3 linked regions of the Homo sapiens genome follow. The protein of the gene in region 1 purifies or fractionates together with the protein of each later gene. This does not show direct contact. Each region holds a gene or a part of one and is shown on either strand. Other genes may lie near its edges.

Evidence for each region. The genes of interacting proteins can lie anywhere in the genome.
Region 2: the proteins of RAD9A (region 1) and HUS1B purify together in Homo sapiens (co-immunoprecipitation; 4 studies listed by BioGRID and IntAct, with this or other methods). This does not show direct contact.
Region 3: the proteins of RAD9A (region 1) and CLSPN purify together in Homo sapiens (affinity purification with western blotting; 3 studies listed by BioGRID and IntAct, with this or other methods). This does not show direct contact.

The regions. Positions count from the first base shown.
Region 1 is NC_000011.10:67,394,984-67,398,945, reverse strand, and holds the end of RAD9A (cell cycle checkpoint control protein RAD9A), read right to left. Parts: intron 3,231-3,962; coding exon 3,121-3,230; intron 3,035-3,120; coding exon 2,925-3,034; intron 2,836-2,924; coding exon 2,771-2,835; intron 2,684-2,770; coding exon 2,546-2,683; intron 1,768-2,545; coding exon 1,560-1,767; intron 1,483-1,559; coding exon 1,387-1,482; 3' UTR 536-1,386; downstream 1-535. Other genes in the region: PPP1CA (serine/threonine-protein phosphatase PP1-alpha catalytic subunit), read left to right, coding at 1-6, 90-224, 301-411. UniProt on the Homo sapiens protein: Component of the 9-1-1 cell-cycle checkpoint response complex that plays a major role in DNA repair. The 9-1-1 complex is recruited to DNA lesion upon damage by the RAD17-replication factor C (RFC) clamp loader complex.
Region 2 is NC_000006.12:655,435-660,957, forward strand, and holds HUS1B (checkpoint protein HUS1B), read right to left. Parts: upstream 1,667-5,523; 5' UTR 1,511-1,666; coding exon 674-1,510; 3' UTR 505-673; downstream 1-504.
Region 3 is NC_000001.11:35,759,975-35,767,011, reverse strand, and holds part of CLSPN (claspin), read left to right. Parts: intron 1-1,685; coding exon 1,686-1,794; intron 1,795-2,297; coding exon 2,298-2,746; intron 2,747-3,690; coding exon 3,691-3,852; intron 3,853-4,530; coding exon 4,531-4,608; intron 4,609-4,941; coding exon 4,942-5,014; intron 5,015-5,807; coding exon 5,808-5,916; intron 5,917-6,095; coding exon 6,096-6,670; intron 6,671-7,037.

The sequences.
Region 1 (3,962 bases):
CACCAGGTGGGCTGGTGGCTCCGGCCTGCGGCAGGGGAAGGGGAGGGCCGTGCCTGCGCTCGGGACTGACTGCTCCCATCCTCGCCCAGGTGGTAGAAGACGGCTACGAGTTCTTTGCCAAGCGGCAGCTGGTGACACTTTTCTCAGCTCCCAACTACTGTGGCGAGTTTGACAATGCTGGCGCCATGATGAGTGTGGACGAGACCCTCATGTGCTCTTTCCAGGTGAGTGTGGGGAAGAAAGGAGCCGCTAGGCCCTGTGGCTCAGCCCCATGAGCCTGACCAACACTGTCTCTTTTAGATCCTCAAGCCCGCCGACAAGAACAAGGGGAAGTACGGGCAGTTCAGTGGCCTGAACCCTGGAGGCCGACCCATCACCCCACCCCGCAATTCCGCCAAAGCCAAGAAATAGCCCCCGCACACCACCCTGTGCCCCAGATGATGGATTGATTGTACAGAAATCATGCTGCCATGCTGGGGGGGGGTCACCCCGACCCCTCAGGCCCACCTGTCACGGGGAACATGGAGCCTTGGTGTATTTTTCTTTTCTTTTTTTAATGAATCAATAGCAGCGTCCAGTCCCCCAGGGCTGCTTCCTGCCTGCACCTGCGGTGACTGTGAGCAGGATCCTGGGGCCGAGGCTGCAGCTCAGGGCAACGGCAGGCCAGGTCGTGGGTCTCCAGCCGTGCTTGGCCTCAGGGCTGGCAGCCGGATCCTGGGGCAACCCATCTGGTCTCTTGAATAAAGGTCAAAGCTGGATTCTCGCCATGGCCTCCGTCTCACATCTAAGACACTGCCTGGCAGCTCTTCTGCACAGAGCCGCTTGGGAGTCTCGGCACCGGGCCCCAGCCAGGGCAACCCTAGCCACACACTCGGGTCCAAGGCTCTTAGAATTCCAAGTCAGCGCCAAAGAGTATCAGGAAAGCAAGGAAAACTTGTCAGCTCCACGGGGGTCCCAGATGCATGCCCAGGACTTCAGGAAGGAACAGGTCATGATTGGCAGAGAAGCTGGATCACCAGGGGCCAGCAGCACCTACTATGACATTTTCCTTAGGAAGGTGAGCCTGAGGGAGACAGGTTTCCAGCCTTGGCCAGCTGGAGTATAGCCTGAGGCTCAATGAGAAATAAGAGGTAGGAACGTCAGTAGTTCAGGGCCAAGTCTGGAAAGTCCTGATTGGCTGGGGGTTGTGGGGAGATAACGGCCCAGGCCCGACCGCTGTGGGACAGCTTTACAGTGACAGCCAGCTGGGGCCTGCGAGAGGCAGTGAAACAGCTCAGCTCCAGCAAGCCCACCTTTCTGATCCCCAGGGCTGAGAGACCCAGTTCTGCCACTGGCTGGGGCTTCGTCTAGTCCAAGGCCTCTGGGTACAGGCTTCAGGTTCTTGGTTCAGCCTTCACCCTCACTGTCTTCCGCCAGCACAGGGCTGGGGCCCTGGGGGGAGCGTACAGGGGCCAGGATGGAGCCGAAGAACAGTGAGCGGAACTGGAAAGAGAACAAGTGAGTTCTGGAGGCTGCTCCCTTCCCTACCTCCCACCCCTGCCTCCACCTCCAGTCCCTACCTTCTTGGGTGGGGGAGTCCCAGGCACTGTACTGGGCTCAGCCTCATCTTCCTCCTCGGAGTGGGGACCGGGGCTCTTGGGGGGCTGGGGGCCAGGTGAAAGGGAAATGGAGGGCAGCACCCGCGAGCCCTCATTGCCTATAGTGGTTTCCATGGCGATCATGTAAGAGTCAATGTCGTCATTGGCAAAGTCGTCCGGGTGGGGTGTGCTGTAGGCAGAATCGGAGTATCAGGGAGGGGACTGGGGGAGCAGAGGCAGGGCCCCACCTTGGAGGGCTCGAAGGGAGCTCTGGGGCCCCCGACCACTGGAGATCTCTTGGTTTTATGACTTCCTGATTTGGCTGGAGAGGAGAGGATGCAGGGGTTAAGTGGTGACTTCCTGGAGGGGGTGGGCCAGGAATCTCTTTGATCAGAATTCAGGTAGGGGCCTGAGGGAGGCATCCCGGGGGCTACCTTAGCTCAGCTAGGAGGGAGGAGCAGCAAGTCTTATGAACTGGGCCACATGGAGCCCAAGCCCCCACCTTCCCAGGGGACAGGAGCTGGAAAGCACAGGAGCCCAGGGACAGGCTGGGCTGGGGGCCAGCCCCAACTTCCTGTGCTGAAAGTGCACTGGGCCATCCTCCCCAGCCCACCTGCCCTTCCAGCCACCTGCTTCCCCCAGCCCAGGCAGCTCCTGCCTCCCAGCAGCCCTTTCCCTCCTTGGCCTGGGAGGAGGCTCAGAGGGGCGGCCTCAGCCAGAGAAGGAAGCTGGCAGGGCCTTGGGGATGCTTCCCTGGGTGGGAGGGGTCTCTGAGTACAGCTAACCGAGAAGGCTGAGTCTGCAGGGCTGGCAGCTGTGAGCACTATAGGGTTAGGGGCTGGGGCCTGATAGAAAGAGAAGGGGCGGGAGAGAACACATTGCGGGGAGGTGCAGAAGCTAGGAGTTGCAGTCTCAGGCTGGAGTGCACAGACATGGAGAGAGGAGGAGTTGGGGGGAGGTGCCCTCACCTGTGAGCCTGGAGCTGAGGCACTGGCTGGTGACGCTCTGGGGAGCCCAGGTCCTGGGAGTGCGAGTCGGTGTCTGAGAGTGTGGCCAAGACAAAGTGGCCGTCCAGCAAAGAGTCCTTGATGGTGAAGATGGCGGGCCTGGGCAGGGGAGGGGGCCCAAGCTAGGTCATCCCATTCAGCTCCTGCCATCCCAGAGCCCTTCCCTGTCCCAAGGCTGGGAACTACCTGCCTGGAGCATCAAAATGAATGCTAAGATTCAAGTTTGCTGACTCTGCAAAGCTCAGGAGCCCCTGGGAGGAAAGAGGTAGCAGGTGAGGCCCCGGGCTGGGCTGAGCTGGGCAGGGAGGACAGGACGGCGAGCGCCTGGGAGGAACCTCACCCGGAATTCCTTGAGGCAGAAAGTGATGGCCACCCCTTCCTGGGCCTGCAGCTGCTGGAAATCCTCCTCTCCAAGGCACATCTCAGTCACCATGGCTTTGGCAGTGCTGTCTGTTGGGGAAGAACAGGAGTAACCTGGGCCCCGCCCCTCTCCCACCTGCCACTCTGCTGTCCCAGGCCACGTCCAGCCCCCTCACCTGCCTCCTCCTCGTGGTAGCTGCGCAGGATGACCCTGCGGCCACGGCCAATGCCCAGCGTCACTTCAGCCAGTGCAGGAGAGAAGGGCAGAACAGCCTCCCCCAGAACCCTGTGAACAGGGTGGAGCATTACCCGAAATGCCTGGCCCTGCCCAGGGCTTTGCTCTCGGAGGACCTGAGGTGGGGGTGACACATGCACACGCACGGATGTGCGCAGGCCTAGCGCACCGTGGATGAGGCCCAGAGAAGGTGGCAGGGAGGGGACTGGTTGCAGTGGTTGCTCAAACCTGGCAGGCGGCACCTGACCATGCAGACCAGGGAGAGGGCCCAGAGGCAGGACGTGGCACTCAGGCCACCCTACAAACCCGGCCTTCAGAAAGAGCCCTGAAATCCTTATCCTCTAAGGATACCCATTGACATACAGATGAAATCACATCTGGAAATTGTTTCAAGTCAAGTGGGGACGGGAGCTGCGTCTGCTTTTACATATATTTGAAATTATTCATGAGACAGAGTGCTTGCTTCGGCAGCACATACACTAAAACTGAAGCATGCAAAAGATGAGCAAGGCCCCTGCGCAAGGATTTAAAAAAAAACAGTGGCTCATGCCTGTAATCCCAGCACTTTGGGAGGCCGAAGCAGTGGATCACTTGAGTTCAGGAGTTCGAGACCAGCTTGGCCAACATGGTGAAACCTCGTCTCTACTAAACATATATAAATTAGCCGGGCGTGGTGGTGCATGCCTGTAATCCCAGCTACTCGGGAGGCTGAGGCAGGAGAATCGCTTGAACCCGGGAGGCAGAGATTGCAGTGAGCCAAGATTGCACCACTGCACTCCAGCC
Region 2 (5,523 bases), on another chromosome or scaffold:
TTGCAATATTTGCTTTTTGCAGTGGTCTGGAACCAAACTTGGAGTATCTCTGAGACATGCCTATATTTCCTTGATTTCTAATGTGAATATGATACATGTGAAAAATGAACCTAATAAGCAATTCAAACTATGTAGATAATAAATCTAAAAACCATGTACACTGATATATTCTTTGACATATCCTATACAGAACACGGCTTAACAAAGAATATGTAATGCACACACATGCTAAATACCTTTTATCTTGCAGATATATTTAGCTCTCTACATAAGAAATGCCCTCGGAAAACATTCATACATATTTTAAAAGGAGAACTTTCCCGCTTTACACAGCAGCATTTTATAATAAAATACTGATGCAATTGTTTCAGGATTCAAAAATACTTATTTCATTACAACCCTGTTTTTCCCCCCCGAAAAAAAGAGTTGAAGAATAACTTTGATAGAATCTTAAGCAGGAAAAAAACCTGACAAACCCAATAAACAAAACATGAACTACCCAACTGTTTTACCAATGCTTTAATATAAATTTTGCAAAGGAGGAAGGGCTCAACAAAATATACGCCCTGCATAAGTCAGTGAAGGTCCAAATTTTCAACCCAATTAACTCAGGGTCTGTTTTAGTTTTGAAAAGATCAAAACCTTAAAAAAAAAATCTAAGCTGGCTGAATTTTTACAAGGCAGGAATGAAATACTGAAGAGAGACATCTTCTTGAACCAAAACAAGCTGAAGAAGAGTATTGTCCCAAATATTGCACAGGGCCGTCGTAGGATGTATTTGCTGTCCCTCCAAAAACTGCAGAAGCTTCCGATTGTCCACCCGCACTTGCACCATGCTCTCCAGGTCTCTGTTTTCAGGCACACCCACAGCCGACTGGGGAGGGTTTCCAAGATTTTTAAAATAACTTTGAATGGACACCACCTCCGTCTCTATACTCAGGGTCATCCTGCCACTGAGGTTTGCTTCCACCAGCACGTGACTGCCCACGTTCGCCATCCTCTCCACGATGCTCCTCAGCGTCCTCCAGCGCGGCAGGCGGATGCTCGCGTCGGAGGCGCGCAGGCTGGGCGGCAGGCAGTCCCGCCACACTCTCCTGGGAAGCACCCGCACGGGCAGATCGTGCACCACGCTGCGAGCGCGGCCCAGGGACGAGACCAGCTCCACCGCCACCGTGAGGGAGGGGCGGCGCTTGTGGGTCAGCTGCAGCTTCAGGGAGGACGCGCCCGCTGCGCTTCTCGCCGCCCGGGACAGGTGCTCCGCCGTCAGCTCCAGGTGGATCTCATCGAGATCTTCCGAGACACCTTCCATGCGAAACTGCTGGAAGGCCCCCTGCCGCACCTCGCACCACAGCCTGGCCTCGTGGAGGCCGCCGGAACCCGCGGGGCCGAAGCACAGGCTGTCAGGGCGCACGCGGAGCACGCAGACCTTCGCTAGCCTCGCGACGGTGCCGCTGACGTGAATGAACAGCTCTAGACAGCCTTTGCCGGTGATCTTGGCGCGAAACTTCATGATGCCACAGGGAAGGCAGCTGGGGGCCTCTGAGGGGGATTCCGCGTGCCACAAGCCCTTCCGGTCCGCTGGGGTCCGTGGCGCTGCCCTCCCCGCCCTCCCTCCGGCCCCCCAGCTAGGCAGGCACTCGGGTTCCCGGTTGCGGTTGCGGGTTCTGTTGTGGGTTCCGCAGCCCTAGGCCTGGAGCCACGGAAGGGCCTCCCAACGCCCGTTCTCACCTTCCCTCCAGCCCTCTCACAAAATGCTTCCGTTTCCACTCCGGTTATAAGAAGAGTAGGCATTCCACTGCTGAAACTTCTTAGTATTCTAAACACAATGAAGACAAAATCATCACTCAGATAAAGAACCACTTTTAATCTCTTTGGTATATACACTGATTCCATCTTCATCAATCGGCATATAAGAAGATATAGTTCCACGTGTCTTATGAAATCATAGCATACCAGGCATACATTTTACAACCTCATCTTCACACTTAAATATGTAACAGGCACCTTTCCATGCTGGTGAAACAAATCTACACCATCTTCATGGCTGCTCACTTTTCCAGTGTATGGAGTTATAACACAAATGACATTTGGATGATTTCCAATTTTTTGCTATTATGAACACAATGAATATTTTTGTACAAAATAGTTTTGCCCATTTACCCAACTATTTCCTTGCATTAAATTCAGAAGTGAAGTGCTGGTCAATGAATGCACTTTTAAAATCCTAATAAATATTCTCAGACTGGCCTGCAGAAAGCTACATGAACACTCTAGCCCACCAGCAACACTGGGTAGTAGCAATCTGTTTTACCTGTAGCACTCTGGCAGGCAAAAAAAAAAAAAAAAAATTCAACTTGCACTGTGTGTGAATTCCATCTTATGCCCTTTGCATCTTTTTACTGAGTTTATTTTTCTTGATTTTAAGATATCTAGCAAGAACATTAACCCTCTGTCCATTACATGTACTGTAAATATCTTCCCCAGTTTATCATGTGACTTTTCACACTGTTTTTGGTATTCTTTGCCCTTGGGAAATACTGAGTATTTTCATGTCAAACCTATTGACCTTTTCTCTACTACTTCTAGGGTCATGCTTTCAAAGTCCTGTTTCTGGTACTTTAATGTTATCTGTTTTTATGACTTAGTTGTTTGACTCAGTTGAAATCTTTTTTGGAGTACCGAATGCCTAGCTGATACACATAATTCACTAAACAATCCACTTCTCCACTAACCTGAAATGTCAATTTTGTTTTAGACAAAAATTCTCATTTTTGCTTGAATGTTTCCTGGCCCTCTCTATATTTTCTCCCACTGCCCTATCTTGAACCTGTACCAGTGATTTAATTTCTGTATTATATTTCAATATCGAATAGGACAATCTTTCAGAACTTCTCTCATTCTCTCACAGATACTGCTCCAGATGAATTCTAAAATATTTTGTCAGAGTCTAAAAATAATCTTCCTGGAATTCTGATGGGAATTATCACCAGCCTGATATAGTACATACTTAGACTTCTTTGTTTGCCGTCTAGCTCTAACCACAATGATGTAAGTTAGAGGAGTTCTTATCTGTTCCATACACTGCTGTACACCCAGCATTTAGAACAGTATTTGCCATGCAACTGGTGTTCAACACAAATTTTTAAATGAATGTATGAAATGTATAAATTTCAAGATAATTTCAGGATATTTAAAATATATATATATATTTTATATATATATATATATATATTTTTTTTTTTTTTAGACGAAGTCTTGCTTTTGTCGCCCAGGCTAGAGTGCAATGGCGTGATCTCGGCTCACTGCGACCTCTACCTCTCAGGTTCAAGCGATTCTCTTGCCTCAGCCTCCCGAGTAGCTGGGATTACAGGCGCCTGCCACCATGCCCAGCTAATTTTTGTATTTTTAGTAAAGACGAGGTTTCACCATGTTGGCCAGGCTGGTCTCGAACTCCTGATCTCAGGTAATCTGCCCACCTTGGCCTCTCAAAGTGCTGGGATTATAGGCGTGAGCCACTGCGCCCAGCCAAGATATTTAAAATATTTACATTAAATCCTCCCACTTATTCAAACCATTTTTTATGACTGTCAATGAATTATTCAGTTCTGTTCTTAGGGAGTTCACATAATATACAGTATCTTGAAGTCAGTCAAGTCACTGAGCTCTCCTGAAATCATTTTTCAATTGACCTTTTATGTCTCTAATGTAGAAAATCTTACTATCTTCATGTACTGTAATTATGGCTTTTACTCTTCAAAGTTTATGTCATTTATTTAACTGACATTGCGTTTGCTGTAATTTTCAAAACACTGCTGAATAACAGTGGTGCCAGAAAGCATCTTTGTCTTATTTGTAACTAATGACGAATCCTCTAGAGCAGTGTTTCCCAAACTGTCATTAGCGCCCCCAAGAGTCTTTTTAGGTGTTTTCCCTAACTGCCCTCCATGGAATTTTAGATCACAGGTCCAGACAGAGCAGCATGCGAAGGCTCGCATTGTGAATTTTAGCCCCAGATAGACTGCAAGAACAAACCAGCAATCTCAGACCCTCTGAAGGAAGTAAACTGCTCTTGCAGGACCTGGGAGACACTCCAAATACTGTGAGTGCCCCAACTGTGGAAGTGGGAAAAGGAGCCCTTCCTCTCCCGAACACACACTCCCACTGGAGAAGCTGAAGGTCTGTTTGCGGGAGAAGTTTCCGACTTTACCTGGAGCTGAGTCAATCTGGAGGGGTGAGCGAAACACAGGGGTAGAGGCAGCAGAAAAGCCCTGGGAGCTCACTGTGTCCCCTTGCAGGCCATTCCTGCCTGGCACCACAGGGATCCATCTGGAAGGTGGCCTGAGGAGCAGGGGGTACAACTCCACAGGGAGAAGGAAATCTCTAACTGAACTTTGTAACAATTTCAAGGGACTGAGAAGCCTCCTGGCCAGAACTTGGGAGAGGACGCAAATCTGGTGTGCAGACTCCACAGGCGGGGACAGAACCCAGCCTTTTTAGTTCGCAGCTGGGAGGCAGGTAGCCTGGGGCAGATTTTCAAGCCGTCTTGCCACTCAGGGCTGTTGGGGGGGGGACACGGGGGGCACGGTGGTTGTGAGACTGGCCCTTCAGTTTTGCGTGGGAGCTGGGTGAGGCCTGTGACTGCAGACTTTCCCCCACTTCCCTGACAACCTGCATGACTCAGCAGAGACAGCCATAATCCCCCTAGGTACAGAACTCCACCCCCATCCCCCAAGACCCACCCATCCCCCCCAACCCGATGGTCCTTCCCTACCCAACCTGGTAGTGGAAGACAAAGGACATATAATCTTGGGAGTTCTAGGGCCCCGCCCACTGCCAGTCCCTCTCCACACTACTACAGCTGATGCTTTCTGGAAAGCACCACCTCCTGGCAAAAGGCCAACTAGCACCAAACTAGAGCATTAAACCACCAAAGCTAAGGACCCTCCCTCAGGGAGTCCATTGCACCCTCCGCCACCTCCACTGGAACAGGCGCTGATATTCACATTCACGGCTGAGAGACCATAGATGGTTCACATCACAGGACTCTGTGCAGGCAACCCCCAGTACCAGCACAGAGCTGGGTAGACTCGCTGGGTGCTAGACCCAGAAGAGAGACAACAATCTTGCAGTCTGGCTCACAGGAAGCCACATCCACAGGAAGATGGGGAGAGCACTACATCAAGGGAACACTTTGTGGGACAAAAGAATCTGAACAACAGCTTTCAGCCCTAGACCTTCCCTCTGACAAGGCTACCCAAATGAGAAGGAACCAGAAAACCAACCCCGGTAATATGACAAAACAAGGCTCTTCAACACCCCCGAAAAAATCACACTAGTTCACCAGCTATGGATCTAAACCATGAAGGAATCCCTGATTTACCTGAAAAAAAAATTCAGGAGGTTAGTTATTAAGCTAATCAAGGAGGGATCAGGGAAAGGCGGAGCCCAATGCAAGGAAATCAAATAAACAATACAAAAAGTAAAGGGAGAAATATTCAAGGAAATAGATAGCTTAAAGAAAAA
Region 3 (7,037 bases), on another chromosome or scaffold:
ATTTTGGGAGGCTGAGGCAGGCGGATCACCTGAGGTCAAAAGTTCGAGACCAGCCTGGCTAACATTGTGAAACCCCGTTTCTACAAAAAATTAGCCGGGCATGGTGGCACGCACCTGTAATCCCAGCTACTCGGGAGGCTGAGGCTGGAGAATCGCTTGAACCCAGGAGGCGGAGGTTGTAGGGAGCCAAGATCGTGCCATTGCACTCCAGCTTGGGCAATAAGAGCGAAACTCCGTCTCAAAAAAAGAAAAAAGGAAATATACATATAGCCGGGCGTGGTGGCTCACGTCTGTAATCCCACCACTTTGGGAGGCTGAGGCGGGCGGATCACCTGAGGTCAGGAGTTGGAGACCAGCCTGACTAACATGGAGAAACCCCATCTCTACTAAAAATACAAAATTAGCCAGACGTGGTGACACATGCCTGTAATCCCAGCTACTCGGGAGGCTGAGGCAGGAGAATCGCTTGAACCTGGGAGGCAGAGGTTGCGGTGAGCCGAGATCGCGCCGTTGCGCTCCATCCTGGGCGACAACGGCAAAACTCCATCTCAAAAAAAAAGAAATATACACATAGCATATAGAAATATACATACATATATAAATATATAGAAATATACATACGTACACACATATATACATTCACTTATGTGTTAACTTTCTTTATAGGTTTCTCTCCCTCTCTTTTTTTTTTCTTTGCAATATATTGTTAAAGAAACCGGCCGGGTGCAGTGGCTCATACCTGTAATCCCAGCATTTTGGGAGGCCGAGGTGGGCGGATCACCTGAGGTCAGGAGTTTGCAACCGGCCTGGCCAGCATGGTGAAACCTTGTCTCTATTAAAATAGAAAAAATTAGCTGGGTGTGTTGATGTGCGCCTGTAATCCCAGCTACTCAGGAGGCTGAGGCAGGAGAATCGCTTGAACCCAGGAGGCAGAGGTTGCAGTGAGCCGAGATTGCACCACTGCACTCCAGCCTGGGTGACAGAGCGAGATTCTATCTCAAAAAAAAAAAAAAAAAAGAGAGAGAGAGAGAAAGAAACCACCCAGTTTGACTTGTAGAATTTCCCACGTCTAGATTGCATATCTGTGGTATTATTCAACATGTTCCCCTATTCCCTCTATTTCCTATAACTTGCTAGTTAGATCTAGAGACTTGATAGGATTCAAATTTGATTGTTCTGTCAGGAATACTTTATGGCTAGTATTGGGTACTTCTATTAGGCAGCACATAATGTCTGGTTGTTTCTCTTTTGGTGATGTTAGCAGCCATTAATGATAATTGCCTAGGTCTGTTATTTAATTGAGGGTTGATAAAATTGTGATAATCTAATTCTATCATTTATTAATTCATTAGGATATTTCTCTAAATAGAAACTTCCCCTCATCAATTGTATGGATATATTGGGGAACAGTTCACACAGAAAAGGCATAATAAATGCTTGATTCTTTTCATTTTTTTTTTTACCGTTACTAAAAGAGTTGGTTCTGTTAGCATCCTTCAAAGGTGAAAAATGAACTTTTGTTTGTTTGTTGTCCAGTAATTCTAAATGTCATCCCTTCAAGGAACCATTGTATTTGGTTCTTTCCTTAGTTCAGGTTGATGATCCCACGATGATTTGTGTGTCATTATGTACTTGGAGCTTTCGGTCACCTGCTGGTTGATATAAAGTATATTGTCATTTTCTAGGTTCACCTAGAAATCAATGACCCAAACGTCATTTCACAAGAGGAAGCAGATAGTCCTTCAGATAGTGGACAGGGCAGCTATGAAACAATTGGACCCTTGAGTGAAGGAGGTTTGTAATAGTACTTTTATTTTTAGGAATAGGTTGCGGGAGCCTCAGTTGTAAGTAGATTGGATTGATTTCATTATTCTCTTGATTTATTACATTATTAATGCCCCATCCTTATTGTTTGTTTTATTATAAAAGCAAAATAACAGTGCTTGTACCTTTTTGAAACTATGTTATATTGTTGAATGTCTAATAGCTACCATATTGCCTGGTTAATTGCATTCATCCTATAATAAAAGGAATTTTAACACCTGCCGGAGGTTAGAACAACTTTACACATTGTAAATATACGTAAAATTACATTTCCCAGTAAGAGACATTTTTCCCAGGGAAAATGTTTTTCAAAATGTATTTTTAGATTTGCTTTGCTACAATCAGTTCTTAACAGTAGTCACGTAATTTCACAATGTTATATATCACTTGTATAAAAATATATTTTTGAGGAGTAGTGGGACTAGGAGGAAGATCAAATGATGGTATAATTAAAAGAAAATTGTTTCCTCCAGATTCAGATGAAGAGATATTTGTAAGTAAGAAGTTGAAAAACAGGAAGGTTCTACAAGACAGTGATTCCGAAACAGAGGACACAAATGCCTCTCCAGAGAAAACTACCTATGACAGTGCCGAGGAGGAAAATAAAGAGAATTTATATGCTGGGAAAAATACAAAAATCAAAAGGATTTACAAAACTGTGGCAGACAGTGATGAAAGTTACATGGAAAAGTCTTTGTATCAGGAAAATCTTGAAGCGCAAGTGAAACCTTGCTTAGAGCTGAGTCTTCAGTCTGGAAACTCTACAGACTTTACCACTGACAGAAAGAGTTCCAAAAAGCACATACATGATAAAGAAGGAACTGCAGGAAAAGCAAAAGTAAAATCAAAAAGAAGACTTGAGAAAGAGGAGAGAAAAATGGAAAAAATTAGACAGCTAAAAAAGAAGGAAACAAAAAACCAGGTACATTTTAAAGAATAATTTGCTATTGCTTGGGTAGGTTAACATTTTAGAAAAGGTTGCTGTTAGTACTTGAGGTTGTTTCTGCTCTCTGACTATTGCTTTGAATTGACTATTTTGTGTTGAGAATTATTCTCAATAGGTATGTGATTTAAAACTAACTGGTCTTGGCCAGGTGCAGTGGTGCATACGTCTAATCCCAGCACTTTGGGAGGCTGAGGCCAGAGGGTCACTTAAGCCCAGGAGTTCGAGAACAGCCTAGGCAACAGAGTGAGATCCCATCTCTACAAAAAATTTAAAAATTAGTTGGGTGTGGTGGCCGTAGTCCCAGCTGTAGTCCCAACTACTTGGGAGGGTGAGGTGGGAGAATCACTTGAGCCCAGGAAGTCGAGGCTGCAATGAAGCTGTAATTGTACCACTGCATTCCAGCCTGGATGACAGAGTGAGACCCTGTCTCAAAAAAAAAAAAAACAAAAACCAAAAAAACAAAACTTATTGGTCTTATTCTATTTTGGGTATGCAGAGGACATTTCCAAATAAATGGGTTTCTGATTTTCTTTATGAGCACATGGAGTAATTCTTTGCTGTCTCTGAGCTGATGAAAATTAACTGAAAGAAGGCTTTTTTATGCATCTATCAGTCAGTAGTCTTGTTTGCTAACTAGAAAAACCATCCTCAAATTTATAAACTAGTTGCTTAACAAGTATTTTACTTCAAAAAAATATTTACTGTTTATTAAGTTAGTTTTAGACAGTTGCATAAAATCACAACTTGGACTTCAAAGGATACATGTGAGTTAGAAACCAGTAAGAATGTTCTAGATTTTATATGCTTGTCTGTTGATGAAACATGGGCTTTTTCTGGCCTGATCCAAATTGCCATATGATGTTGTGAAATACTGGATTTTTAAATGATTGGATTATGCTTTTTGTTTATGTATTACTTAGGAAGATGATGTAGAACAGCCATTTAATGACAGTGGCTGTCTTCTTGTGGATAAAGACCTTTTTGAAACTGGGTTGGAGGATGAAAATAACTCTCCATTGGAAGATGAAGAGTCATTAGAATCAATAAGAGCAGCTGTAAAAAACAAAGTAAAAAAGCACAAGGCAAGTAAAGCATGATTGCAATAAGAGTTAATCAACTGCTTCTGACCTTTGCTATATTTTTAATTTACTGTTGGAACCTTAATTTTTTTTTTAACTGAAGAAAAACTTGTGTCAGTTGACTTAAGTGTTTCAGCTGTTAATTTTGGAGACTTGCAGTACAAGTGATAGACATGCTAACTTCTTTGGAAACTAGTGTTTTGTTATTACCCTTTTAGGAATGCTGAAAAAAAAAACCACTAAGATATTTGATGGTGTAGTAAGATGCAGGTAAATAATAGGGAAGAGATGTAAATTTTGCAATCCTATAGCCTTTGAGAAATGAACCCTATAGGGTTTCAGGAAGGGTATCAAAGAGAGGCATCAGTCAAAACATTGTTGTCCCGAGTGTTTGGAAGCATAATTTTTCTTCCTAAGATTTTTTTTTAGCTTCCTGCGAGTTATTATCCCTCTTTAGGGAAAGATGTAAGCAGAGGTAAAAGAAATAAGGGTCCAGACTCCATCTGAGGTATCTGTTTTCTAAGCATAATAGGATGCTGTGTGTTTAATAATTTCTAGTTGATGATTATTGATTTATTAATGTAGCATGATGTGGTGTTGGACTACAAAAGTAGTCTTCAGCTAAAGCATCCTCTTATTTGAATTTCGTTTTTGTCCTAATCAACCTGCCATTTCTTTTAGAAAAAAGAACCATCTTTGGAGAGTGGGGTCCATTCATTTGAGGAAGGAAGTGAGTTATCAAAAGGAACCACGAGGAAGGTGAGGTAGAGCCCTGTATATTAGTCACACTGATCTCTTTACACAGGAGATTATAGATTTCTTAGGGATAAATATTTTATTTTGTCTATCATATTTTTCTGTTACCCATCATATTGCTTTGTACATAGTAGGAACAAAATATGGATTGGATTGAACAAATTCTCTGAGACTTGGGAATAAATGAATTCCTTGAGTTTATACTGCATTTGGGCTTACTCATGCTTACTATTTCCTTTCCTCTTTTCTTGGAGAGAGCAAACTCTTGAGTGATGAATATCTATCTTTCTGGATATTCATATAATTAATGTAGTCTCACTTCTTGTTTTCTTTAAGGAAAGAAAGGCAGCCAGATTAAGTAAAGAAGCATTAAAACAACTGCATAGTGAGACTCAGCGCCTTATTCGAGGTAATGCAACCCAGTAAACTTTGAGGCAAAATCACAACATTTCTTTGTAAGCTCAACTTGGATGTTGGGGACTTTTATTTTTTTAACACTTCTAATGTGAACTCAGGTTATAATATTAAGTTTAGAATTGATCTTGGTGAAAGGCCATTGTTCTAAAGCCCTTGGAACATTAGTATAAACTGAAGAAATTTTCAGAACTGTAGTGCAGGTAAGGAGGAAATTTTTTAATGGTTGTCTATGGACTGATTGTGTCAGGATTCTTTGGAGAGGTAGTAATCCCTCCCTATTTGCAGTTTTGGTTACCTGTGTCAGCCATGGTCCATGGAACTTAAAAATATCATCCCTTTGTCCAGAGTATCACGCTGTATACATTACCTGCCTGTTAGTCCGTTAGTAGCCCTCTCAGTTATCAGATCAAAAAAACACTGCATGGTTTAGTACCATCTGCAGTTTCAGGCATCCACTGCAGGTCTTGGAATGTGTCTGTCTGGATAAGCGGGGACTACTGTATATAAATGTTTAGGTCCCACAGAGATTCTGATTCAGTAGATTCGAAATGGGATCCAAGAATCTGTATTTCTAAAAAACTTCCTGGATCATTTTGATTTCACATCTAGGTTTAAAAGCCACTGGTCTTCAGGGAGCTTTTTTGTACTTAGCTCCTCTGCCTTTGTTAAAGGGGAGTTTTCTATTTCTAGTGATGGCTTTGGTTATTATGTTTAGTTAACTGAATATGAAGTGACATTTCAGAATATACAGTATATATATTTGCTTGTTTTATTCCATTTTATAGAGTCTGCACTGAACCTTCCATATCATATGCCTGAGAATAAAACCATTCATGATTTCTTCAAACGTAAACCCCGGCCCACTTGCCACGGAAATGCCATGGCACTATTGAAGTAAGAACCCTCTTTCCTTATTATAATTTTCATGAACATTTAGTTTTGTAGCAAACATCTGGCATAAAAAGTTCAGATTTCTCACTCCCTTAAAACTGATTTAACTGATATATACTAAGGGATGAGAATGTTTCACATTTAGGATAATTTTCAACTCCAGCTCAATTTCTCTTCTCTAGGTCATCTAAATATCAGTCAAGCCATCACAAAGAAATCATAGACACTGCAAATACTACTGAAATGAACAGTGATCACCATAGTAAAGGTTCTGAGCAGACAACAGGTGCAGAAAATGAAGTGGAAACTAATGCACTCCCTGTAGTTTCAAAGGAAACCCAGATCATTACTGGATCAGATGAGTCTTGCAGGAAGGATTTGGTAAAAAATGAAGAGCTAGAAATTCAGGAGAAACAGAAGCAGAGTGACATTAGACCTTCACCTGGGGACAGCTCAGTGTTGCAACAGGAATCCAACTTCCTCGGGAACAATCACAGTGAGGAATGTCAGGTTGGAGGGCTTGTAGCATTTGAACCTCATGCCCTGGAGGGTGAAGGCCCCCAAAATCCAGAAGAAACAGATGAGAAAGTGGAAGAGCCTGAGCAGCAAAATAAATCATCAGCAGTTGGGCCACCTGAAAAAGTGAGACGGTTTACTCTGGATAGACTTAAGCAACTGGGAGTAGATGTTTCCATTAAACCACGGCTAGGTGCTGATGAAGATTCCTTTGTGATACTTGAACCTGAAACCAACAGAGGTAATCCTTTACATTGTGGGGAGCCTCCCTGGAGTGATTATCCTGGTAGCTTTTGATTATTGACTACTGTCGAGGACAGAGAACACAGGAGGAACCAATAACCACTTTGATCTTATCCTGCAGTTGTTCCAGATATGGGCAGAGTCTTTTTTAGAGAAATTTGGCAGGGTATCAGAATGATCTAAGCCATGTTTAAAATGGAAGTCTGTTGGCTGGGTGCGGTGGCTTACGCCTGTAATCCCAGCACTTTGGGAGGCCAAGGCGGGCAGATCACGAGGTCAGGAGTTTGAGACTAGCCTGGCCAATACAGTGAAACCCCGTCTGTACTAAAAATACAAAAATTAGCCGGGCATGGTGGCACGCATCT